Linked DNA regions of Homo sapiens. The protein of the gene in region 3 purifies or fractionates together with the protein of the main gene of each other region. This does not show direct contact. Each region holds a gene or a part of one and is shown on either strand. Other genes may lie near its edges. The genes, in order: ZYG11B, TUBB1, PRSS50 and ZNG1C.

What was found.
Region 1: the proteins of PRSS50 (region 3) and ZYG11B purify together in Homo sapiens (affinity purification with mass spectrometry; 3 studies listed by BioGRID and IntAct, with this or other methods). This does not show direct contact.
Region 2: the proteins of PRSS50 (region 3) and TUBB1 purify together in Homo sapiens (affinity purification with mass spectrometry; 3 studies listed by BioGRID and IntAct, with this or other methods). This does not show direct contact.
Region 4: the proteins of PRSS50 (region 3) and ZNG1C purify together in Homo sapiens (affinity purification with mass spectrometry; 3 studies listed by BioGRID and IntAct, with this or other methods). This does not show direct contact.

What each region holds. Positions count from the first base shown.
Region 1 is NC_000001.11:52,820,443-52,827,479, reverse strand, and holds the end of ZYG11B (protein zyg-11 homolog B), read right to left. Parts: intron 6,042-7,037; coding exon 5,851-6,041; 3' UTR 144-5,850; downstream 1-143. UniProt on the Homo sapiens protein: Serves as substrate adapter subunit in the E3 ubiquitin ligase complex ZYG11B-CUL2-Elongin BC. Acts to target substrates bearing N-terminal degrons for proteasomal degradation with the first four residues of substrates being the key recognition elements.
Region 2 is NC_000020.11:59,014,888-59,022,448, forward strand, and holds the start of TUBB1 (tubulin beta-1 chain), read left to right. Parts: upstream 1-4,541; 5' UTR 4,542-4,635; coding exon 4,636-4,692; intron 4,693-7,561. UniProt on the Homo sapiens protein: Tubulin is the major constituent of microtubules, a cylinder consisting of laterally associated linear protofilaments composed of alpha- and beta-tubulin heterodimers.
Region 3 is NC_000003.12:46,711,617-46,714,906, forward strand, and holds the end of PRSS50 (probable threonine protease PRSS50 precursor), read right to left. Parts: intron 2,886-3,290; coding exon 2,602-2,885; intron 1,452-2,601; coding exon 1,285-1,451; intron 867-1,284; coding exon 630-866; 3' UTR 501-629; downstream 1-500. UniProt on the Homo sapiens protein: May be involved in proteolysis through its threonine endopeptidase activity.
Region 4 is NC_000009.12:68,238,148-68,244,990, reverse strand, and holds the start of ZNG1C (zinc-regulated GTPase metalloprotein activator 1C), read right to left. Parts: upstream 3,009-6,843; 5' UTR 2,960-3,008; coding exon 2,806-2,959; intron 1-2,805.

The DNA.
Region 1 (7,037 bases), on a different chromosome or scaffold from region 3:
AAAAATAAAAACTTCTCCAGTAAAAGTAGCCTTTTTCAGAAAGCAATCATTACAAGTGGATCACTAAGGAATTTGAAGTTTGCATTAATATTAACTTTTAAAGCCAAATGTCTAGAATAAAAGTAGACAAGACACACTTTACATAAAATTTATAACATTTATTTAGGCAAAAAAAATCCCAAAACAAAAATCTGTACACACAACATTAATACTTAAGTGATGTCCTGATTTAAAATACAGCATGATTCATGTACAGAATACTCCCATTCATCTGGCCATAGTGAGAACAGTGCCTTCAGTCCAGATAATTGAGAGTCTTTGAAATATACACACTTTCCAATGAATTTTTTATATCCTTAGAAAGGAGTTAAACTGTTCTATCAGAATTCAAACAAAAGATAACTTCTCTCACACTCATAAGTCAGTGAGAATTTGACAGTGGGAATTCTACAAAAGTCAGGGATTTCTTAATTTTTGTTGTTGCAGATTATCTGAGAGTATAAAGTTTTTAAGGAAAAACAATGCTCTTAAGATCCTGCTTTTAATAAAGTGTCTCAGCTTTCATTAGCTAAGTAGCTTCTTCCTTCTAGGCTGCTTAAAATAAGCTTAAAAGGACCCAATTTGAACAGTTTTTCCCAAAATAAGTCCAAAATTAAACACATAACATTAATAAAATAGATTGATGATTTCCCACAAAATAATTTTGATAAACTTGGATTTTGGAAATATTCTTAATGGCCATTCTGTCTAGCTGTAAAGTTAGGCTGTGCTATCCAAAAGAGCTTTACTTTAGAGTCATGAGAAGCAGCACTGATCTTTGCAAAACTTACCCCAAAAAATGGGGAGAGAGAAAAACAGGAAGAAAAGTCTCTTTCTTAGGCTACCAGTCAGTTAACAAAGTATCTTAGATTAAGATTTGGAAACCAAAGAATGCATAATTAGGAGTGTACCATATCATGCAAAGTCTATGAAATACTAAATAAGGTAAAACAGTTAATCATTTAAAGCACGATGAGCAAATTCTCTTATCATACGGCTATTCTCATCACCGGACGAAGGTTGGTTTTGCATTATTCCTAAAATAAAACAGTTCGTGAGTGAATACTGCAAATTAAAAACTGTCAAAACACAGCAAATGATAAGGACTAAACATCCATTATCCACAAACTCATTTGAAACTACTACCATGGATTTGAGAGGGAAACCAAAAGTTTGCAAACCTCTCTGGGAGCTGTGTCAAAGTTAGTATTCTGAAGCCCTAGCAATACAAAGTCCCCAAATAAGTAAAATACAGATAAAAGTGGAAGAGCCTACATCAGCTCAAAGTAACATACTTCCTTTAACTTATGCCTTCAGTTTAATAATACTGTTTATACCACTACATTGTATAATAACGAAATAATGTAAACATACCATTAGAGGGCAGGAGAGGGATGGGTTTCACCATATACAAAGAGTTTAAGTTTGTTTTCCCTGCTACCTCTTTTTAACCTTGGGTGCAGCTGTACATTGTTCTATAGGGGTATTGTTCTATAGTTTAAAAACACTAAGCTAAATCTCTGGTAAATTAACCTAATTTAGCACATAAAATATGTTTTCATTAAACATATGGGATAGGAAGGGATAGGAAGATGGCCCGGTGTTATGTTGATGCATGGCATAATTAAAAACACAGCTAAGACCAGGCACTGTGGCTCATGCCTGTGATTCCAGCACTTTGGGAAGCTGAGGTGGGAAAGTCACTTGAGGCCAGGAGTTCGAGACCAGCCTGGGCAACACAGTGAGACACCATCTCTCTCTCTCGCTTTTTTTTTTTTTTTTTTTTTAACATAGCCAAATAAGATGACTGGGGAGAAAACAGATTAACACAAAAGGTCCCACCTGTAAGGGCAACTTCCTAAAGCTAGATATATAGAACCGATGGTTTTAAACATAAAACTTGATTATGTAGAAGTTTGCAAATGAAATATATCACGAAAGCAAATTCCCATGCAGCTTTATTCACCTCAACCATGTGTAATCTACTTAAGGTGACTAGTGCCACTATAAGGCATTACTGTCCCAGGGTGACAAGAAGCAATATTTATACTCAATTCCTGAAACTGGGGGTCTGATATGCTTTTTAAAAATCCTAAACTAACTAATATCAGTAGCCATGGAGTCATCGGCTTGAGGGTAAACTAATCCCTTATACCACTTGATTTATTTTATTAATTAGTTAATAATGCAGTTAATTTTCAACTGCAAAAAGAAAAAATTATTTTGTGGAGTAGAAAGACCACAGCAATAATTACTTGATGCAAAAAATAAGACACCTTAATTGTATTTGCTCAAATCTGTTGTCTTAATGATACCAATATGTATCATTATAATCTATTTTTTAAAAATTTTCCTCATTATGCCCTAGAACATCATTATACTCTAAAAAGTCAAATTCCATTTCCTTTAGATTTCCTTAATGTTGCTTGTGGACTGATGTAGTGATATTTTACATTGGAGCCCACCAATGATTTGAACAATGAGTGGTTCAACCCTAGTCTAAATTGTGCTTGAAACAGCACCTCTAGCCACTGAGAGATAACACTCAAAGGCACCAATAACAGTTATATTCTAGTCTACAGGTGCAAAAAGGAGGCCTTGTAGATTCTAACTATAGATACTGGCTACTTATGCCTCATAATTCCAATACATACATCCACTGTATTTTAGCCAGATTCAGGACCTTACACACAATTCTGTGCCTTAATTCTATACGCAATTTTAGGAACCATCCCAACTGCAAAGGCACTCAAATTTTTATATATTTGGGATGTAATAAATTATTATGCTTTTTTTTTTTTTGAGACGGAGTCTTACTCTGTCACCCAGGCTGGAGTGCAGTGGCATGATATTGGCTCACCACAACCTCCACCTCCCAGGTTCAAGCGATTCTCCTGCCTCAGCCTCCTGAGTAGCTGGGATTACAGGTGCCCGCCACCACACCCAGCTAATTTTTGTATATTTAGTAGAGACAGGGTTTCACCATTTGGGCCAGGCTGGTCTTGAACTCCTGACCTTGTGATCCACCCACCTCGGCCTCCCAAAGTGCTGGGATTACAGGCGTGAGCCACCGCGCCCGGCCTATTATGCTTTTAAGACTCAGAAGTATCTGGCCACTACTGATGTTTACAAAGTAGGAAATTTAGCCTGTAGTTCCAGCTACTCCAGAGGCTGAGGGGGTAAGATCACATAAGCCCAAGAGGCTGCAGTGAGGTATGATTGTGCCACTGCACTCCAGCTTGGGCGACAGAGTGAAACTCTGTCTCTACAAAAAGAAAAAAAGTAGGAAGTTTAATTTTTTTTTTCCCCAGAGTCTCACTCCGTTGTCCAGGCTGGAGTGCAGTGGCACGATCTTAGCTCACTGCAACCTCCACTTCCTGGGTTCAAGTGATTCTCGTGCCTCAGCCTCCCGAGTAGCTGGGACTATAGGCGTGCAAAAAAGCCACCATGCCCAGCTAGTTTTTGTATTTTTAGTAGAGACGGGGTTTCACCACGTTGGCCAGGGTGGTCTCGAACTCCTGATCTCAAGTGATCTGCCCGCCTCGGCCTCCCAGAATGCTGGGATTACAGGCAAGAGCCACTACGCCCACCCTTGCTTTTACATATTTTGGATGCTTCAACTATTAAGAAGTTATTCTGAGTAAAGAAGGGATTTACTGTTTTCTGTACACTTTTAGCCATTTCTGAAAATAATTTGTAAAGACAAAAACCTAGCATTAGCCTGTAAAGAAATATGCACTTTTGTCTTATAAAACAGAAACTTGAAGCCAAACTTCTTAAATAGGCTTTCCCTTAACTACACTAGATAAAAGACCTGGAAACGGTCAACATATCTAGCAATTTCCAAACTACCACAGGCCATCTCGTTTTCTGAACTTTGTCTTAGACATTAACATTCGAAAAAGGAAAAAAAAAAAAAAAACTTTTAAAAGAATTCTCTATTTTGTCTGAAATAAACTTAGTCTGTGAAAATTTATCTTACGCCTATAAAAATTCCTTAAGCCAATTAAGTCAGCATTAACCCAGCATTTAATATGGTTTTCAGTGATTCTAAATATCTATTTAGATATTTATTTGAGTCAGCGTCTCGCTCTGTTTCCCAGGTGCCACCACACCCAGCTAATTTAAAAAAAAAAAATTTTTTTTTTTGGTAGAGACCGAGTCTCACTATGTTGCCCAGGCTAGTCTTGAACTTCTGGGCTCAAGCAATCCTCCTGCTTCAGCTTCCCAAAGTGCTGGGATTACAAGCATGAGCCACTGCATCCAGACCTAAATGCCTACTTTCTTTTAACTCAGTTTTCATTCACATGAAGGAACTCCAAAAAAAATTCAAGTCTGATTATTGTGATAATGGTATAAAATGTTTGTCAAAAAATGTCATCAGTGAACTAACAAACCAGCTCCTTTCTAAATTAAAATGCTTCTGAATAATCACTATAATTTTAATATTCCATTTTAAATCTCTGTTGAAAACACTGGCCATCTATGAAAAAAAATGTAGTTATCTGGGATTGTAGATTGACCTTATTCACAAAATAAAATTTTAAATGAAAATTAAGTTTCTTGGTGACTTGCTATCTCTCAAGTGCTATTACTGATATAAGTGATTCTTTACTATACTGTATCAGATACCTTAAGGAAAGGTAATTGCCTAAAAAATAATCTGTCAAAAATATGTGCTGTTATGCACTGCGAGTAGAATCATTACATTTAATCATTTAAAGAGTTTAATTATTTTCTTTCATTTTTGGCAGTGAGATGGGGACACTTTCTCTAACATGAACACATTAAGAAGATACACATATTTTGAACAAGAGATTTTAACTTTTTATGGCAAAATTTACTGGTGTCAATTGTATTTTAATTGAGAGGTTAACACCATGTTGCTGTCTCTATTCCACTGAACAAAAATGACTTTGAAATAGAGGAAAAGAATAGCCAGTTTTAACTGGCGATAATTTTTTAAAATCACATTTTCACAACACTACAACATATGGAGATGTAGACAGTTAGTCTTTAACACAGAGTGCTGTAGTATTTTATACTGTGGTGCTTGGGGAAATATTCCTAGTGAATAACCGGCAGTCTGTGCAGGAACCAGCAGTCCACACTTCTAGGTATAAATATGGAGGACAAGCTTCTGCTCACCGCCTCAAGAGAGGTGGACTCCCGAAGGGTAGCCTGTCTCATTTTAAAACCTATACCATGAAACCAATTCCCAGTTCCTACACTCTGTTCTACCTTCATAATTTTTCTTTCTCATATATCTTTCCGCCAGCCATCCAGGCTCCTGCCAGTGATTAGCTTCCACAAGATGATCCACATTTCCCTTCTTTCACACTAAGAAGGACATCTTATAAAATATACACAGATAGAGAAGAAAGGCATTTTATACAGAAGCAGTATAAAATTTACAACTGAAGCAGTGTCAGAAATCAGGTCAACAGCTTATGTGAAGCTGCAAATTGATTGGAAGGGACTCTGAGATCAGAAAAGTCTGGCCTAAGGGTTCGTGCAAACTTTACCATAAAACTGTAGAATCTCAAGCACAAGTAAGTTCAAACACTGAAAGATGTGGAAAATTTCCTAAAAGGCAATGATAAAGGAAGAGACCCTTCTTGACTCATAAGTTTAAAATCACAAGACAAATTAGAGACTGTTCACATGGGCAGTACTACACATTATCAATCCCAAACTGATTTTATGACTCTTGTCATAGAAACCCCCAAAACATCAGGGAGGGTAAGATATTCCAAATGGACCAATCACAAAAAGGATTCCTGTGATTCAACTATCCAATACTTATGGCTATCAATTTAGTCTGGCTTGGGGCTGTTTTTTACAGGGAGGTGGCCTCCCATGGCGCACAATGTGTTTTTCTAAGCTATCCAGAATGGCCACAGCAATCTGTTGGACATGGGGATCAGTATGTTCATGATCTTTGATGTTGTATAAATGCTGCAATCCTCCTTCTTCAATCAGCATGCTGCAATACCTTGAAGCTGAAAAAGAAAAAAAAACACACACAAAACAGGAGAAATAGCTTTTCTTAAAACACTTGAAAATTATTCCACAAAAAAATGACTTCTAGGAGCCATTTTTTTTTAGCTGTTTTGTTATTGATCACTAACATGCTACAGCTTGATAAATAACCTCTATACTGATGTTACGTCTACAGTGCAAGGCCTACACATTCAATCAATAAATAGCTAGCTTGATTTTTCTAACCTCAAGACATGTACAACCTGTATTAAAAAAATAAAAACAATCATAACTACCTTATCTTTGACCCAAAATCACAGGTAAGTGTTGTTATATTTTTATGCATTTCCTATGCTTTTTTTTTTTTTTTAGACAGAGTCTTGCCCTGTTGCCCAGGCCAGAGTACAGTGGCGCAATCTCGACTCACTGCAGCCTCCGCCTCCTGGGTTCAAGCGATTCTTGTGCCTCAGCCTGGAAATACAGGCACATGCCACCACCCCTGGCTAATTTTTTTATTTTTAGTAGAGATGGGGTTTTACCATGTTGCCTAGGCTGGTCTCAAACTCCTGCCCTCAAGCAATCCTCCCGCCTCAGCCTCCCAAAGTACTAGAATTACAGGCATGAGCCATAATGCCAGGCTGCATTTACTATGCTTTTTAAAAACTTAATGGCACTCATACTGCACATACAATTTTTAAATTTTTGAAATATTTTATTAGCCTTTTTTTTTTTTTTTTTTTTTTTAAAGACAGTCTCATTCTGTTGCCCAGGCTGGGGTGATCATGGCTCATGCCCAGTGGTGTGATCATGGCTCACTGCAGCTTGCTGTGTTGCCCAGGCTGGAGTCCAATGGCACAATTTTGGCTCACTGCAACCTCTGCCTCCCGGGTTCAAGCAATTCTCCTTCCTCAGTCTCCTGGGTAGCTGGGACTATAGGCACCAGCCACCACACCTGGCTAAATTTTTGTATTTTTGGTAGAGGTGGGGTTTTACCACGCTGGCCAGTCCAGTCTCAA
Region 2 (7,561 bases), on a different chromosome or scaffold from region 3:
TTCAGGCTCAGGGCTGGGCTGGTCCTGGTTGGGAATCTCAGTGTTGTGGGCCATAGCGTCCTCACCACACTTGCTAGGAGGAAGCTCCTGCCCTCTGGGGCAATGCTTGCTGATCTCCTCACCTAAATGCAGGCACTGCTAACCTGCCTTGGTCACAGCCCTTTGTTGGGGGGGCAGAAAACAACTTTGTCACTCATCACAGTGGCCACTGTGAATCGCTTGCTGCAGCTCAGGACGGGGGCCGTCACCTTCAGCCTGGCAAAACAGACCTTGGGGTCGTGCCGGCATCTCCAGGGGCAGTGTTCGCCTATGTCCTGCACAGGGCCCGCTTCTACCAGTCCGAGGGCAAGGCAGACTGTATTCCCCACCTCACTGCTGGCACTAAGGTGGCAATCAGAGGAGAGCTGTTTCCTCTGGGGAGCAGGTACCTTCAGAAACAAGGACAAGAGAGCTGAGACGGGACGCACGGCTTTCCAGACCTGCTGCCTTTCCTGCCACTCTGTTCTGCCCAGACATTTTAAATTGAGACAGGCCCCGATGTCCACGGCCATGTCAAGTCTGCCACACAGTAGGTGCTCCGTCTGTAGGTGTGGAATGCATCTCCCCCTCCCACCCTGCGAAGCCCACTTGAAAAATACCACCGGCAGCCACACGTTAGGGGTCAGCCCTGGCAGGCCCAGTCCTCACACCGACTTGTGACGTGGGGACTTTTATTTCATTTTTCACGTGAAAAAGTTCAGGTCTAGGGCGGAGATGGGCCCCTGGGTGGCGGAGCTGCCACTCCGTCCCTCACCCTCTCACAGCCCAGCGTCCAAAGCTCAGCACTCGCCTGGCCTGAATTAACATGGCCGGCGATACAAGAATCAAAGCAAACAGGGCTTCTCTCTTTTTCCTCCTTTTTGCCAACTGCCCCATTAACAGAAAAACCTTTTAAGCGCCCACCTGGAAACCTGGCTTTTTCCCCTCCCTAAGCAAACTAAGATGGCCAAGAGGAATGTGCTGCAGTGCGGAGGGTGGGCGGAGGACCCCAGCAGCCTGGATCCTGCTCACATGGCAAACAGTGAACCCAGGCAGACCAGAAATGCCCCTTGGGCCCAGCCCCGTGGTCCCTGCAGCAAGGCGGTTTGTGGCCAACAGGGGCTCCTTTCAGGAGCTGGGCCACAGAAGGCCACGGCTGCCCACCGGTCACACCTTCCCGTAATAGCTCACTGCGGTTATTCCATCTATAGTCTGTCCCCAACATCCAGGTTTCTTGGAACAGTTTATATCTCCAGCCTAGACCACCTCTTATGGAATGGAGGAAAAAGGTGACCCCACCTGGAGAAGGACACACTCGTGAATAAATACATCACTGGCTTTAAGAACACAGCCCGCTCTGAGCATCACTGCTCAAACCTGCCCAGCTGTCAGTGTGCCCTTAACAAACATTTACTGAGGCCCTGCCATGGATCAGGCACTTTGGGGACTCAAAGATGAAACGACACAGGCAGCTCCCAGGCTGGCGGGAGATAAGGCATGTGTATAAGTAATTAGCAAACAGGACTGTGTGTGGGCACTGCAGGTTGAAGTGCTCTGGTCCCCAGGAGAGGAAGTGTCTCTGATGAGGGACCTGCCTGTGGGAAGATCATGGAGCTGTCTTTGATCTTCGGAGAAGTCTGGTAGGCAGGGGCCCCTGGGTGGGGAGGGAGGCTCGGGAGAGCTGGTGGGGACAGAGACAAGGGGAAAAGAGGCCAAGGCACGCCAGGAGAAAGGCTGGAAGTGAGGCAAGATGGGCTAATGTCTATGGAAACAGAATGGTCTATTCTTAATTTTAAAATGGTCTGTTTTAATTTCTGAAAAATATTGCTGGGGACCTATGAATAGGTCTGTTTTAATTTAAACAGATCATTAATAAAATGGTCTGTTTTAATTTCTGAAAAATACTGCTGAGGACCTGTGAATATCCTCCTCTTGAATTTGCACATTCTTCTCTTTACCTTTGGGCAGGGAGGAGGGGTGACTGGACCGGAAGCATCTGTGAGTCATGTGACATTCAGGTTTGAGCACAAAAAAGTTCCAAACTTAGAGAAATGTTACAAGGGTATTAATCTTGTGCTAACTTTGAAAAGAACCAGCAATTGTTACCACTTTGCCCCTTTGCTGAACTGCCCTCTCTCCGTTTATCACGTTATGTGGTTGTGGAACTGTTTCCCAGTAAGCTGCCAGCATCAAAACGACCTTGAAGCACAGTGCTTCATAATATGGGATCTCCTGGAAACAAGGACTTCCACTTAGAACCACCCTGCCATGATCAAAGTCAAGAAATGGAACACTGATACAATACTATTTTCCAGTGTACACAATCCTTATTTGAATTTTGACAATGATCCTCATACCATCCTCTATAGCAGCCCTCTTCCCTGGTCCTGGATCCAGCCCAGGATCATGGGGTGCACTGTCAGTACTCAAGGGCAGCCTGGGATCTACACACTAGACAGAGGTGAGAAGCAGTCCCAGTCCAGGCACTCTTAGGACACAGTGCTTTCTTCTTCCCCACCTCTGGGTTTCTCTTCTGGTTTATAGCTCAGGCCCTTTGGCTGTGTGTTTGAGCTCCTTTGGGAGTAAGCAGAAGCGATTTCCCCCAGACACTCCATCGTTAGGAACTTTCCTGATTGTGTTCCTGACCTCACATCCTGGGCCCCACCAGGCCTGTAGAAGGAACACAAGGTTTAGGAGTCAAGCCTGGGCTTGGGGCACAGGAAGCACAGGCCCCTCATGGACCAGGCTGGGCTCCAATGCTTCAACCAAGGTCACGGGTCTGGCGAGAGGCAGGGGAGGGAAGGACCTCCAGGGCTTCTCGCTCTGAGTTCAGTAGTCTTGCCTGTCCTGAGTCCCTGTCCTGAGAGATGGTGTCCTTGAGCTGCTCCAGAGCTAGGAGTGCTCTCTTCCTAAGTAAGCCAGAGTTCCAAGAGTGCAGGATCTGGCCACATCTACCTCCTTCATTCCCTTGTCTGCAGCGCCCAAGGTGAGCCCAGCCTATGACAGGTCCCCGTCCATAGCTGTTCAAAGAATGGGGGCAACCTCAGGGTGCCCGGCAGACGTTAAAGAGAGGCCTCAAGAGGTGGTTGCTCACCGGATGGTGGTTGTCCACATCCTCGGGGCTTCAGGAGTGAGGCCTTGCCCTGTACCTGCCCACCTGCACCTCGACAGCTCAACAGGCACAAGGCAGCGTCCACTGGCTCTCCCCTTCCGAGCCAGGGCTCTCACGCCTTCTCAGGGAGTCCCTTCCCCATCTTCCTTGGAAGCTTCCACCTTCTGTCCTCCAGGCGGTGGGGAACTGCCACCCTCCTGGGCAAGGATATGGAGCTGGTGTTTGGCCTGGATGCCCTTGCCTGGTTGGAGGTAATAAAGCCTAGGGCTGGCTTTCGACGATGATAGAAACTTGGTGGCAGGGGAGGTACTGAGGACCAGGAGACAGAACAGCTGCTTTCAAGCTGCTGAGTACCCAGCCTGCTGCCACTCCTGTACACCGCATGAGGGAATGCTTTTTTTTTTTTTTCTGACAGAGTCTTGTTTTGTCGCCCAGGCTGGAGTGCAGTGGCATGATCTCGGCTCACTACAACCTCCGCCTCTCAGGTTCAAGCGATTCTCCTGCCGCAGTCTCCCGAGTAGCTGAGACTACATGTGTGTGCCACCACACCTGACTAATATTTGTATTTTTAGTAAGAGATGGGGTTTCGCCATGTTGGCCAGGCTAGTCTTGAACTCCTGACTTCTGGTGATCTGCCCACCTTGGCCTCTCAAAGTGCTGGGATTACAGGAGTGAGCCACCACACCCGGCTCTAAGGGAATACAATTGGGAGTCCGTTTTGCTCTTGGAGAATTCAGGGTCTGGTAAAGGGACCCTATGGCAAACATTAAGACCCCAGACACCATGAGCTGAGATGGGACGACAGAGCAGGGGCTGGGAAGGGTGCTGGGGCACAGCCCAGCCCTGGCATGGATAGGGCAGGGGTCCAAGAGACCTGCAGGACACTGCAGAGTAACTTGCATACAGGGCGAGAGAGGGCATGTGGGGGAGGGCGGGCAGACAGTGCCTGATGCAGGCCATCCCGGGACCTGGGACCTGCGAGGCCCAGTTGTGGAGCCTCCTGCTGTGGCGGGGCACGGGGCTTCTGGGGACCAAAGTCTGGAAAAGGGGCCGGGAAGATGGACAGGGAAAGCCCTTGGAGGTGGTCTGGTTACCTGGGTGAGCTAGGAGCCACAGTCATCATACCACGGTCACTAGGGCCAGCATGGTCACCTAGAAGCCTGCAAACAGTGCCAGCCTCCAGGCCCTGTGCCCCGAGGTGGCCTTTAATCTTGCACTCACTCTCTAGGAAATGATGGGGCAGTATTCTGTGTTGAGGGAGGAAAAACACTCCCTTCCAAAAGCATGACAGGCAGAAAGCAGAGAAGGGCCAGGACTGGCTGAGGGCGGGGAGCTGGGCCTCTGGGGTGGACACACCCTTGGTCACATTGTGAGGGTAGCTTGGTTGGCCAGTCCCACCACTGCAGTGACCACAGTTGTGTTGGGCTCACACCAGTGAACCGAAGCTCTGGATTCTGAGAGTCTGAGGATTCCGTGAAGATCTCAGACTTGGGCTCAGAGCAAGGATGCGTGAAATTGTCCATATTCAGATTGGCCAGTGTGGCAACCAGATCGGAGCCAAGGTAAGTAATGTCTGGTTACTAATCCTAGCTTTACCACAGTCCATAGAGGCGGACAACCAAAAAAATACCCTAAGTTAGCAGGGAAGACAATAAGTCTAGCAGATTTAATGTACTTGCTAAATATCAGACAATGCCTTTGGGCTTTAATTCTTAAAAAAAAATTTCACATGGGAAAAGAAGGAAACAATCTTTAACTAAAGAGCTACAACACACATTAAGTGCTTAGAGTGTTAATTTAATTAATGTTAATTTTATCCATAGATACATATGTACAATACATGCCGACCATTATATTACATAATACGTTTATCATCTTTTTCTTTGCCCACTCTGTTGCCCAGGCTGGAGTAGAGTGGCAGAATCATGGCTCACTATAGCCTCAACCTCCTGGGCTCAAGCTATTCTCCTGCCTCAGCCTCCTGAGTAGCTGGGATTACAGGCATGCACCACTATGCCTGGCTAATTTTTAAATTTTTTTTTGAGAGACAGGGATCTCACTTTGTTGCTCAGGCTGGTCTTGAACTCATGGGCTCAAGTGATCCTTCTGCCTCAGGCTTCCAAAGTGGTGAGATGACAGGTGTAGGCCACCGTGCCTGGCACTTTTATCATCTTTTATTTTTTTGAGATGGAGTGTCACTCTTGTTGCCCACGCTGGAGTGCAATGGCGCAATCTTGGCTCACTGCAACCTCCACCTCCTGGGTTCAAGTGATTCTCCTGCCTCAGCCTCCCCAGTAGCTGGGATTACAGGCATGCGCCACCACGTCTGGCTAATTTTGTATTTTTAGTAGAGATGGGGTTTCACCATGTTGGTCAGGCTGGTCTCGAACTCCTGACCTCAGGTGATGTGCCCGCCTGGGCCTCCCGAAGTGCTGGGATTATAGGCGTGAGCCACTGTACCTGGCCCACTTTTATCTTAACAATGAACTTTTCATATCTAAAAACAGTAATTTGTCTCAAAACAGCTTTTTGAAGTTTTTTGAGAAACTTTCTGTACCCTGTCACTATGGTGTCTTTCCCCTCCCCTCTCATGTTTATTGTAACGCTTAAAAAAAATCAATTACTGTTTTATTAGTATGCAATTGAAAATTTAAGAAATTTAATTGAAAATAAAAGTTTTTTGTGTACAGTAACATAATTAATTAAAATACACTGTCTGGAATATAAATGAGTTTTTCTTTCCCTTGCCCCCCTGCTTAAAAATTTCCCCCAAGTACGTAACTTAATTGGCCAACCCCAAGAACACAGATGCCCGAACCCACAATCTCCAATCTTGATTTTAAGATGACCAATTGCACCGTGCAAAATTTATCGTGTTCTCTTTGCTGCTGTGAAATTACTTTTACTAATATGAGATGCATTAAAAGTGAGGTTTTGAAACACCTACATTCATCATCCATCAATGACACTTGGGTTGTTTCTGCCTTTTGGCTACTGTGAGTAATGCTGCCAGGAAACAACTAAGGCTTTTAAATGCAGGCGTTTTAAACCGGGGGCAAGGAACATTACTGCTTGAAAAGAAGTCACCATTCCTCCATGCCTCAGGGGTAAGACATTCATAACTCACACACAGAGAAGTGGGAGGCAGGAGCCCTGCTGCTCTGAAGCTGGAAGATAATACGGAAAGGGGCCCTCAAGAGAAAGTGTTAGGTTTAGATAGGGTTTTAGCTCTCACTCTGGAATCGTATGGTCTAGCGTTGAGAGTCCTGGCTGACTCATCATTTAGAGATATAAGAACTTTAAGACACATTTAATTTGGGGTATCTTAGAACTTGAATTTATTTATTCTTCCACTCCCTGAACAGTGCTGGCAGTTTACCATGAACTGCCTTGTTATTAAGACCATGGCCAGAGCAGCACTGTCATTTAGAAGATATGGCTGGGGTTTTTAACATACCCTTGGGGATTTTAATATATGTGAATACATTTTCATTGCATTTTAATATGTGCCTTTCAGGGTGATCAAAAGGAGTCTTCCCAGTAACTGTTTCCATATTAAGAGCTTGGCACATATCTATATTAATAAGTACTGTGTATGTGACTGGAAGTGCAGTATGTTTCAAATAGTTACCAGAGGACAACTATGTGTAATTGTGAGTTGTATGTATACCTGACAATCAAAAATGCACATTACTGGCCGGGCACAGTGGCTCACGCCTGTGATCCTAGCACTTTGGGAGGCCGAGGCAGGTGCATCACCTGAGGTCAGGAGTTTGAGACCAGCCTGGCTAACATGGCAAAACCCTGTCTCTACTAAAAATGCAAAAATTAGCTGGGCATGGTGGTGGACGCCTGTAATCCCAGCTACTTGAGAGGCTGAGGCAGGAGAATTGCTTGAACCCAGGAGGTGGAAGTTGCAGTGAGCCAAGATTGTGCTACGGCACTCCAGCCTAGGTGACAAGAGTGAAACTCTGTCTCAAAATAAATAAATAAACAAACAAACAAACAAACATAAAAAAATAAAAAAAAGAAAGAAAGGCCGGGTGCTGTGGCTCATGCCTGTAATTCCAGTACTTTGGAAGGCCAAGGAGGGTGGATCACAAGGTCAAGAGATAGAGACCATCCTGGCCAACATGGTGAAACCCCGTGTCTACTAAAAATATAAAAATTAGTTGGGCGTGGTGGTGCGTGCCTGTAGTCCCAGCTACTCAGGAGGCTGAGGCAGGAGAATCGCTTGAACCCAGGAGGCGGAGGTTGCAGTGAGCCGAGATCACGCCACTGCACAGATAAGACTCCATCAAAAAAAAAAAAAAAAAAGGCGCTAATTACTTAAAATCATGCACAGAGGTCCAAGTTATGGGCTGTTTGGAAAAGTTCATGAAAAGAAATCCCCAAAGTGAAATGAGTTATTACTGTGAAATCAGATAAGAA
Region 3 (3,290 bases):
TTATGGGCAGGCCTGGCTGCTGGTGGTTGGAATAACATCTGACTCCAGTGGGTGTCTGTCACTGTCTCCAGACAGGAGACAGAGACAGAGGGTCAAAGTTCACTATGGCTCTTTGGGGCAATGAAATGCTGTGTTCTAGCCTCTTGCCAGAAATCAGCCAAAGTCAAGGAAAGCCCGACTCCCACAGTTATCACAGAAAGAGCACCCACTTTCCAGCCCAGACAGCTGCACCCCAGCTGGGTCCTGGCAGCCCCAGCTTCAGCCTGGGCGGTATGTTCCAGGCCCCTCGATCATCTGACCCTAATATCACCCCTTCACACCCCCTCCACCTTCTGCGGGAGCCACCCCGAACCTTTGAATGGGGGAGATCCTGGAGGCTCTGCAATTTTCAGTGTAAACTGCCTGGAGTTCCCCACTTCACCCTCATCTGGTTCACCTGTGGACTCCCAACAGAGCAGGCCCAGGAAACGTGGGGCCTCTGAGGCCGGGGAAGAAGGAGGCATGGAAAACAGTAATGTTTAATTGAGCACCTCATCTCCACCCTGACTCTCAGGGCTGTGACAGCTGCACCCACAGCAACCTGGGCACGGAGGCAAGGGGGGCCCACAAGTGAGGGAGGGCACACAGAGTCAGAGGGCAGCAAGGAGGCTGAGGGGCAGTGGGAGTGCCAGGAGCAGGGTCCTGGATGGGGCTGGCAGGGCCAGGGCCTGCCCGTTGAGGCAGTCCCAGATCCAGTGTTGGTAGGAGGAGACCTGTAGGTAGATGGGTGGGGCCTCGCTCTTCTGGCAGCCTGCACCCCAGCTCACCAATCCCACCAGGTACCACGTGCCCTCCATGGAGCAGACCAAGGGCTCTCCAGTTAGCTCCTGTGGGAAGGGTTGGGGGAGTAAGGGTCAGGGAGGCCAGGCAAGGCCAGAGACGACCCAGCTCCAGGACAGGCGGGATGTCCTCACACCACACCTCCACAGTCCCCCAGTGCCAACATAGGTGAGAAGTGCTCCAGACCCAGGAGCTCTTCCTCAAAGGGTTTCATCCCCCACCTCTTAACACCCACCCTCCATCTCCCCACGGACCCCCCACTCCTCTCACCTCCAACAGCCATCCCCATTCCCAGCCCCCATCTGTTTCCTCCCAGTCTCCCCCGACATCCTCCATCCCCATATCCCAGAGTCCTGCCCACCCCCTTCCCTTCCCCTACCCAACCTCCACCGTTCCGCTCTCCCTCCCCAGATGCCTCTCCCCCAGGTGCCCCTGAAGGGGAGTGAGCGAGGAGAGGCCGCTCACATAGCAGAACTTCTCCCTGTGGGTGTCCTCCGCACACATCATCTGGGACTTGATGATCTGAACCAGAGTGGGGATTTTGGTGAAGTTGTGGTAGAAATTGTCACACTCTTTGTTGTTCAGGATGATGACTTCCTTCTCCTGAATGGTCCGGAACTGAGGCCACATGCCTGTGGGACAGGGCCCCATTTAGGCGCAGCCACTCACCGCTGCCCACTACCGCCAGCCTCACTCGTCCTCTCTCCACTGTTCCCCACGTCCCACCTTTTCTGCTTTAGCCACACACCTCTGCCCTCGTTCTAGCCCATACCCATCTAGGGCCCTCAACACAGAGCCCCCGGAGCAGAGTACCCCCAACCCAGCCTTGCCGGGCCTGCTCTCGCTTCCTGCAGTGCCCAGGCCACTGGGGCCCTTGACACCACCTCCACCACACTCGGCCTCTTGGCTTTTGCCACTCCTTCCCTCCTGAGGGCCTGCCAAGCCTTCCTTCTCTTCAAGCATCCCTTCTCCCACAGGCCTCTTCCCTGCTGAGCCTTCCCAGACCCCTCCATGGAGGCCAGGCACTGCTTCTTCCTTCTGCCTCCCTGAGTAGTGTGTCCCTGTCCCTGGCCTAAGCTCCTGGGAGACAGGAGACAGGCCACAGCAGGGATGACAAAGTCACTCCCAGGTCCTCCCACATGGGCTGAAGCCCCCTTGAGCTGTTTTGAGAGTAAGTTGGTTCCTTGAGGCCACAGGGAAGGGCATCTCTCTTATGGGCTGGGGACCCCCTGAAGGAAGTAGACAGTTCTAGGGTCCCCTGGATGTTCCTGAGAGAACACACCTGCTCTCTGGGCCTTGCTCCTGAATTGGGACGACCAGGAGTTGAGGCCCACTGAGGGGAGGGGAAACCATGAGCTCCAGCTGCAGACGGCCCCTAGCCAGCCATGTGGGCCTTCTGGGCAGCATTTTACAACACAGAAGACTGCTCCCCCGACCTCAGGTGCTCTGCTGCAAGCTGCCGATGCCTGGGCAGTGGGTGTGGACTGTGAGGTATTACTCTGTGCCTCTCTGCCTTCAAGGAAGTTCTGTTTACATGCCCTGGCCTGACTCAGGATTCAAAGGCAATCAGGGTCCCCTGAGGCTGGAGCAGCAGTGAGGTGTTCCCCACGAGATCCTCAAGGGGAAGGAGACCTCAGAGATGAGAGCCTGGCAGGAAGGTCCCGGGAGCGGCAGGCTCCCTGGGGAAGGTGCCTCAGAAACATCCATCTGTGGTGGCACCCTGGCCTGCACCCACGTCCTTTCTCACAGCACCCGCCCTGGTCTGCAGAGGCTTTGACTCACCGTCAGCCTTGGAAAGTCCCCAGCCCGTCACAGTGCAGCGGGAATGGTCCTTCAACACATAGTCCGTGCCAGGCAGGCAGATGGGCCGCACGTAATTGCTGTACTTGAGTTCCTGCTTGAGCTTGAGGAGGCCGATGTCGTTGGCCTGGCCCACCCAGGACCAGAACCGCTGGGCCCGGTACCTGCTATGCATGATGACCTGGAGCACCGGGACATCGGAGGCGGTCTGCGTCATCTGGTCAATCCACGGACTCCCCACCCTCACTGAGTAGATAACATCACGCCTAGGGGGGCCGTGAGGGGAGGCCATGATCAGCTCCAGGCCCCCTGCCCCAGCCTCCAGCCTGGGCCTTCCCCCACTCTGCTGCCCTCCCAGAAGATCCAGGAGGGGCCACCCACCCGCTTCAAGCCCCCTGAGCCTACTCCTCACCACAGACATGAACAGGGCCCTGCACACTCACTGTGTGGTCCAGTCCTCAAGACCCTTCATTTTATGGAGGGGGAAACTGAGGCTCAGAGAAGCCCAATGAACCACTCAGGGCTGCATAGCTAGGAGGCAGTGGAAGGGATGCGGACCCAGTTTTCTCTGGTTCCAAACTCTACTCTCAGTCCATAGCATGGACTCTTTCACCCCATGCTGTGCCCTGGAGGAGGCAATTCTACTCCTTCCAGCTCCATGGAATGTGCCA
Region 4 (6,843 bases), on a different chromosome or scaffold from region 3:
AGTTGAAACAGTTTCTTCAACCTAGCCTAACCTTCCCTAAAATTGACACACAATCTTTTATTTATAGTGACCTTTTATTTCAACATTAACGAGACGCAACTTCAGGCTGACTATATGGCTACTTATAGTATGCTTTAAACAATCTATAAAAGTTTTTATGAAATGGGGAATAGAGCCAGGTAGTGTCAACAATGAACAGAATGTTCAGTTAAGATAAATTCATAAAGCTATACCAACTTTATCCAGCAGGTGGCATATGAAACCCAATATGTCAATCTCCAGTAGAAAAAAAAGTCTTGTGAACCGTACACACTAAAATTCATAGAGGAAAAAAAGAAAATCCTAACTGCATAGTATTGTAGTTCAATTGTATGACTATATCATTTCTTTATCTTTTTTTTTGTTGGACATTTGGTTTGTTTCCAGTGTTTTACTATTACAGTGCTGCTAAAAACTTTTACATGTAGGCTATACATGTCTTCTGAAATAAAGTTTTCTAGTATATAACTAGATCTTCCTACAACTAGGAAGATTTTACGGAGTATTAGGGTATTAATATCTTTTAGGTCATATTCCTTTCAAAGCTTTTTAAGAGATGAAGGCTTATATTTAGAGTACTTTAGGAAGCTCAACATCACAAAAATATGAAGTATAGTATGGAAGAGAGAGACTTAGGGCAATGAGGAAGATCTTAAAACCAGTCCAAGCCTGAGACAGAGGCCCTGAACATGAGTGTTTCACAGGGCAGTGATGTGAAAACTGAAAGGAAAGGGTGAATGTAAGAAATCTTCTAAGAGAAGATTTACTAGGGCTTTTTAACCATATTATGAAAAAAAAAAACACTTTAAGACATAGTTCATTCATTCAAAGGTTTCTAATACGTTACAGATTTATGCTGGGCCTTGGTGAAAAAGTGAACAAGATAGTCTCTGCCTTCATAGAGCTTAGAAATATTAAGGGAAGGGGGGAATGGAGGGGAATTCAGTGAATAAGGAGGCAATTATGTCACAGGGTGACATATTCAATAGGAGATGCACAAAATGCTATGGAGAACCTAAGAGGGACATCTAGCCAGAGGAGTCACAGTAAAAAAGTACCTATTCCAAGGGGCTAAAACACTTGGCACCTTTGAAGTAACCTTAGTTTATTGTGCGGGGCCAATTTGGCAGGCTGGAAAGGTTGGCAAGATCCAGATCCTACAGGTCCTTGTAATTCATGTTAAGGAATTTGAATTTTAACCCATAGGGACGCCACTGAAAGGTGTGACGCAGTCGGATTGACATTTATAAAGATCATTAAGGCTAACATGCAACGAATAAATTAAAGGGCAGCAAGACTCCAGATTAGTCAGGAGGCTTTTAGAGTATTCCAAATGGTTGGGATCACAGAAGCAGGATTTGGGGGGATGGTAACAGACGAAGTTTCAGACATGTTAAGTTTTAAGTTGTAGGACATCAAAATAGAAATTACACAGGTGTGTAGCTAAAGATGGACAAAGGGGGAAGGAGGAGGGAGCCTTAAAAAGAAGCCAGAGAAGCAGGTGGAAAAATCAGAAGAAAAATGTAATAGAAGCCAAAGGAACAGTGTTTCAAAAAGGGAAAATGGTCAGGGATAGGAGTGAAACTATCCCTAGATTCAGCAACAAGGTTGCTGGTATTAATTCTCACTCCTGAGCTTCAGATCATTTTCTCCAATGATCTACTGACCTACCAGTGAGCAACACGGGAAAGGCCCGAGGGGCACGTTTGAAATACATTGTTTTGGACAAGAAATTTGTTCATCTTCTCAGTAGAGCAGCCTCTGAATAACTGTGGGGAAACGCCAAAAATAAATTCCTTTATAAAATTACTTCCGAGCAAAAAACGGGAATAAACTTACAGTCTACAAAGTTTTTAAAAAAACAAAAGCAGTTATTTCTTATTTTTACATAAAAGGTCACGAAGTGGCCCAAGTCTGTACCTGTCTCTAGCAACAACTAGGAATATTATTTCCCGGAAACAGTATTATTTTATTTACATTTCTTAACTTTTTCCAAACTTCTAATACAGTCATATATTTGTTCTAGCCCTTCTATTTAACTGTAAGGTTTAAAAATATATTTCTCAAACTTTTCCAGTAAGAAACTTCTAGTGTAAGTGCATAAACCGCCCTTCACGAAACTACCAAGTTCACAAACTTGTGGTTTCGAGTATCCCTGTACACTCTAAACGTTCTTAGTTTGAGAAATAGTCTTGGAGGACAGAGATTTTATTCTTACTTCCTACGCAGTGGTTTACAAACAGACCTCAAAAGAAAAGTGTTTAAGATAGGAGCACTTCCTGCCAACTGGCTGGAGGACTTTGGCTCCTGGGGAAGGGGAATCTGCTGACGAAAGCCCCACGTGTCGGGCATTTTACAGACGGGACATCCTTTAATGGCAATAGGTAGGTTGTTCCGGCCCTATTTCACAGGTGACAGGTATTTTTCCATTTTCAGGTGAGGTAGATGAGCGTCAGGAAGGTAAGATAACTTGGTAAGAGGTCACAGAGACAATTAGGGGGGCGTGTCTTAGCTTCAAAGCCTTGTTTCAAAGGCTAACTTTCCATCTCACTTGAGAAATGGGAATCTAACGCAGAGGGGACCGGGCATCATTAACTCCCAAGATGAGAGGTAACCCATACGAGAAGCAAGTGACCCAGCCCCTACCTCAAAGACATTTGCTCTTGATCATGAGGCCCCAATGCCTCAGGAGAAGAGGCACCGGCAGCCCGCAAAATCCCATGACACCAGAGTTCACGGCATTTTGTGACTGGGATGGTTAGTTACCTAAATACCCGGTGATAATTGTGACTGGGATCTTGGCGCCGAGGCCAGACTTTTCCTCCTCCTCGCTTTGCGTCGTCTCAATGGGAACCAATTCAGGACAATCCTCCTCCGCAGGATCCTCTTCCTCATCCACAGATCCAACAGCCGGTAACATTCCGGCCTACAGCACGTCCCTACCTCAGCTGAACCGCTGGGACCAACACGCCGTACCGCAGCCGCGCACGCCCAGCACGCCACTCCCGGCCTGGCCGGGGCCTGACGTCATCACATCGCGACGCTAGCTGATCCCGCCCGGATTACCTGGGCTCTGGACGAGAACTGCCTCGTCCCTTAGCCACACCCCCCGGGGAGGTGGGCTCTCCCCGACGACAGCTGGACACGCCCCTGGGCGTGTTCTGTGAACCTGAGCGACGCTGCGGAGAGTCCTTAGGGCGCACTAACCACCTGTCTGAAGGTGTCACTGGCGCCTAGAGCCTTAATAAGCTACTGGCTGTAGGTAGAGCTGAGGCCAGCCTGCTGGAAATCTGGAGTGGGTAGCCTGACCTAACCAGTTCCCACAGGGCATAGATTTTATCAACTTGATTTTTTAGTCTCGTTAAAAAAAAAAGTTTTAATTCATAGGGGAAAGAATGGAAGGTTATAACATTACAATTTTAATTGTAATTTTTATACCTGAAGGATAACCAGTGACAATTTTTTCTTTTTTTATTATTACATATTATATATGTAATTCCAAATTTTTAGTATTCATGCATCACTTTTATTTACTTTTTTCTCATTATTTATTTGGACCTCAGGTAACCTAAGTTCATTAATCATATTTGCTGGTGCATGACACTCTCATCACTAATCCATAGATAGCCCTTCTTTCTAATATAAATTTATAGTGAACTCCTTTGACCTCATTCCTAACATAAAAGCATTACCAGTAAGCTACACGTACCTATGTGCACCGCCCCCGCTTCCAATCCACAGCCTGCCCCATAAGATAGTAACAACAGTCATGAATTGGTTCTGGATTGCTGATCCTTCCCTGTTTTCTTTTTAGTTTTATCACATATCCCACGTATGTACTTAGAGAATATGTTGTTTAATTTTGGGTGTTTTTGAGCTTCATAAAATTATCCATATAATATATAAACTCCTGAGGCTTGCTATATTTTTCAGCATCACTGCTGTCTTGTATTCTATTGTGTGGCTACACGGCAATTTATTCATTTCCTCTCAATTGTTCCAGGTTTTGCTCTTATGAACAGGGCTGCTATGAACATTTTTCCTGACATATGTGTGTGCAACTTCCTCTTGAGTGTCTAAGAGTTGAATTGCTGGGTCCTAGATTATTCAAATGTTTTACTTCACAAGAAAATGCACAATTATTTTTCAAAATGTTTGTACAAATTGATACATTTTCCCAGCAAATTATAAGAGATCTCATTGGTCTGTATGTCAATATTATCAGGCATGCATTTTTCACCAATCAATTGAGTACAAAAGAAGACTTCATTGTGATCTTCATTTGCATTTCCTTGATTACTAACAAGGTTGAGAATCTTTTCATGTGTTTTGGCAATATGTAATTCTTAGAATGACCCTGTAGAGTGTTATCCCTCTTTCAAACATGAGGCACCAAGAGTTAAGTTACTTGTCCAGGTTAGGTCATAAAAATCTATCTGATGCACAAGTAGAATGTTTTACTACTATCCTGATGCCAAATAAAAGGTTGACTTTTCCTTCCTTCTCTGAAATTCCCCATAAAATATACTGTGTGTATTCCATTAGTTCTACTGATAAGTACATATAACTTGAAAGTATTTATCACGCCTTTTGCAGAACACAGTTAAGACAGAGGGTTTATATTTGTGCAAATGAGTATATTATATTCACACATACACTCGGTCTGAGAAATCAGGTCTTGAATGCTTTGCCAGCTTTGACAATGTAACCATGAACCAGCTGAGGAAGAAATAAGGCAAATACCTTAGGTGTGGTGGTTCAGTTCACTGTATTCTGCCAAAGGAGAGAAGCTGTGATGGGTAGCCCAAAATAGATAGCTTACGCCCTAAACACAATGGTTCATAAGCTTTTTCGTTTCAGGAATGCTATGAAGTATTGATTTTTTTGGCAACCTAAGGGAAGGAGTAACATTGCACCCACAGGCATCACACTATTTGCTTGATGTCCCTTCAGCACTGCATTACTGCCTGAATAGCAGCTATTACAGCCCTCACCATCTTCTTTGACATATTTTTAAAAGTACATTCTTGTGGGTTCCCAATATGGCACTGGCTGAATGTTATACTAAAATCCCTCTTTCTGTTTTTTGAGACAGGGTCTCACTCTGTCGCCCAGCATGGATTGCATTGGCACGATCACAGCTCACTGCAGTCCTAAACTCCTGGGCTCAAGTGATCCTCCCATCTCAGCCTCCCAAGTAGCTGGGACTCCAGTCATATGCCATTACATCTGGCTAATTTTTCTTTTTCTTTTTGGTAGAGACAGGGTCTCACTATGTTGTCCAGTCTGGTCTAAAGTCTCATCTCTAACAATGAACAACCTGTAACCTATGAGGCCAGCTCAGTCAAGTTGACCAAATAGCATTGTTGTAACAGTATGTAGCCTCAATGAGAGCAAAATAAGTTTTACACATTGGCCAAAAATTAAATGCACCACAAATATCTATCAACTGATAGACAACCAAAATGTGACAAATGGATAAACAAAATATGATCTATCCGTACAATGGAAAATTATTTGGCAATAAACAGGAAAAAGGACTGATACCTGCTACAAAATGAATCAATCTTGAAAACATTATGGTAAGTGAAAAAAGCTATTCACAAAAGACCACATGTTGTATGATTCCATTTATATAAAATAACCAAAATAGGCAAATCTATAGAGACAGAAAGTACATTAATGGTTCCCAGGAGTGGAGGACTGGGGAGAGACTACAGTGGTTTTTGGGCGGTGATGAAAATGTTCTAAAATTGATTATGGTGATGGTAGTACAACTCTGATTATACTGAAAACCATTGACTTGTACACTTTAAATTGGTGAATTGTATCATATGTGAAATTTATCTCAATAAAGCTGCTATTCTTAAAAGAAATAAACACCTATCTGTGCATCAAAATGGGGTGCCTGTGTGCATTTGTAGAGAAACACTGTCTTCAGCAGTTTCAAGTTCTGGCCTTAGGCACAAGTATAAAGATTACAGCTTGATAAAATTTTTCCTTTAGTCTGTTCCATATTCCTCTTCAGTTAAGTTTTTATCTATGGATTCTGTGGAGTCCTGTCATTTTATTTTCTCAGATAGAGTTGTAATTTCAGTTCTCCCAAAATAGCTGGGCATGACTTTTTATTTTTATTTCTTTTTTCTTTTTGAGATGGAGTCTTGCTCTGTTGCCGAGGCTGGAGTGCAGTGGCACGATCTTGGCTCACTGCAACCTCTGCCTCCGGGTTCAAGCGATTCTCCTGCCTCAGCTTCCTGAGTAGCTGGGATTACAGGTATGCACCACCACCCCCAGCTAATTTTTGTATTTTTAGTAGAGACGAGGTTTCACCACGTTAGCCAGGCTGGTCTTGAACTCCTGACCTCCTGATCCATCCACCTCAGCCTCCTAAAGAGCTGGGATTACAGGCGTGAGCCACTGTGCCGGGCTTTTTTTTTTTTTTTAACTTATAAGAGGGTTAAATTGTTAAATTGTTAAATTGAAAATGCCTTTTTAAATAAGTATGAAATTTCTTAATTATAATATTTTAGAATCTATTACAGTTTCTGATGTATCTTAAAAATTCCTCCTCATCTAGCTTTGCTATTTTGTCTCATTTACTTTAGGGTAAAACAACAACAGCAACAACAATAATAATGTTTTGAGCCCCTAAGCATCTGATAGGCACTGTGTTAAGCACATTAAATGCATTATCCCATTTAACTCTCCAAGGTAAATACTATTTGTGTGCCCATTTTATAGATGAGGAAATTGAGGCTTAGAAAAGATAAATACCTTGCTCAAAGTCATACAATCAGTAAATGG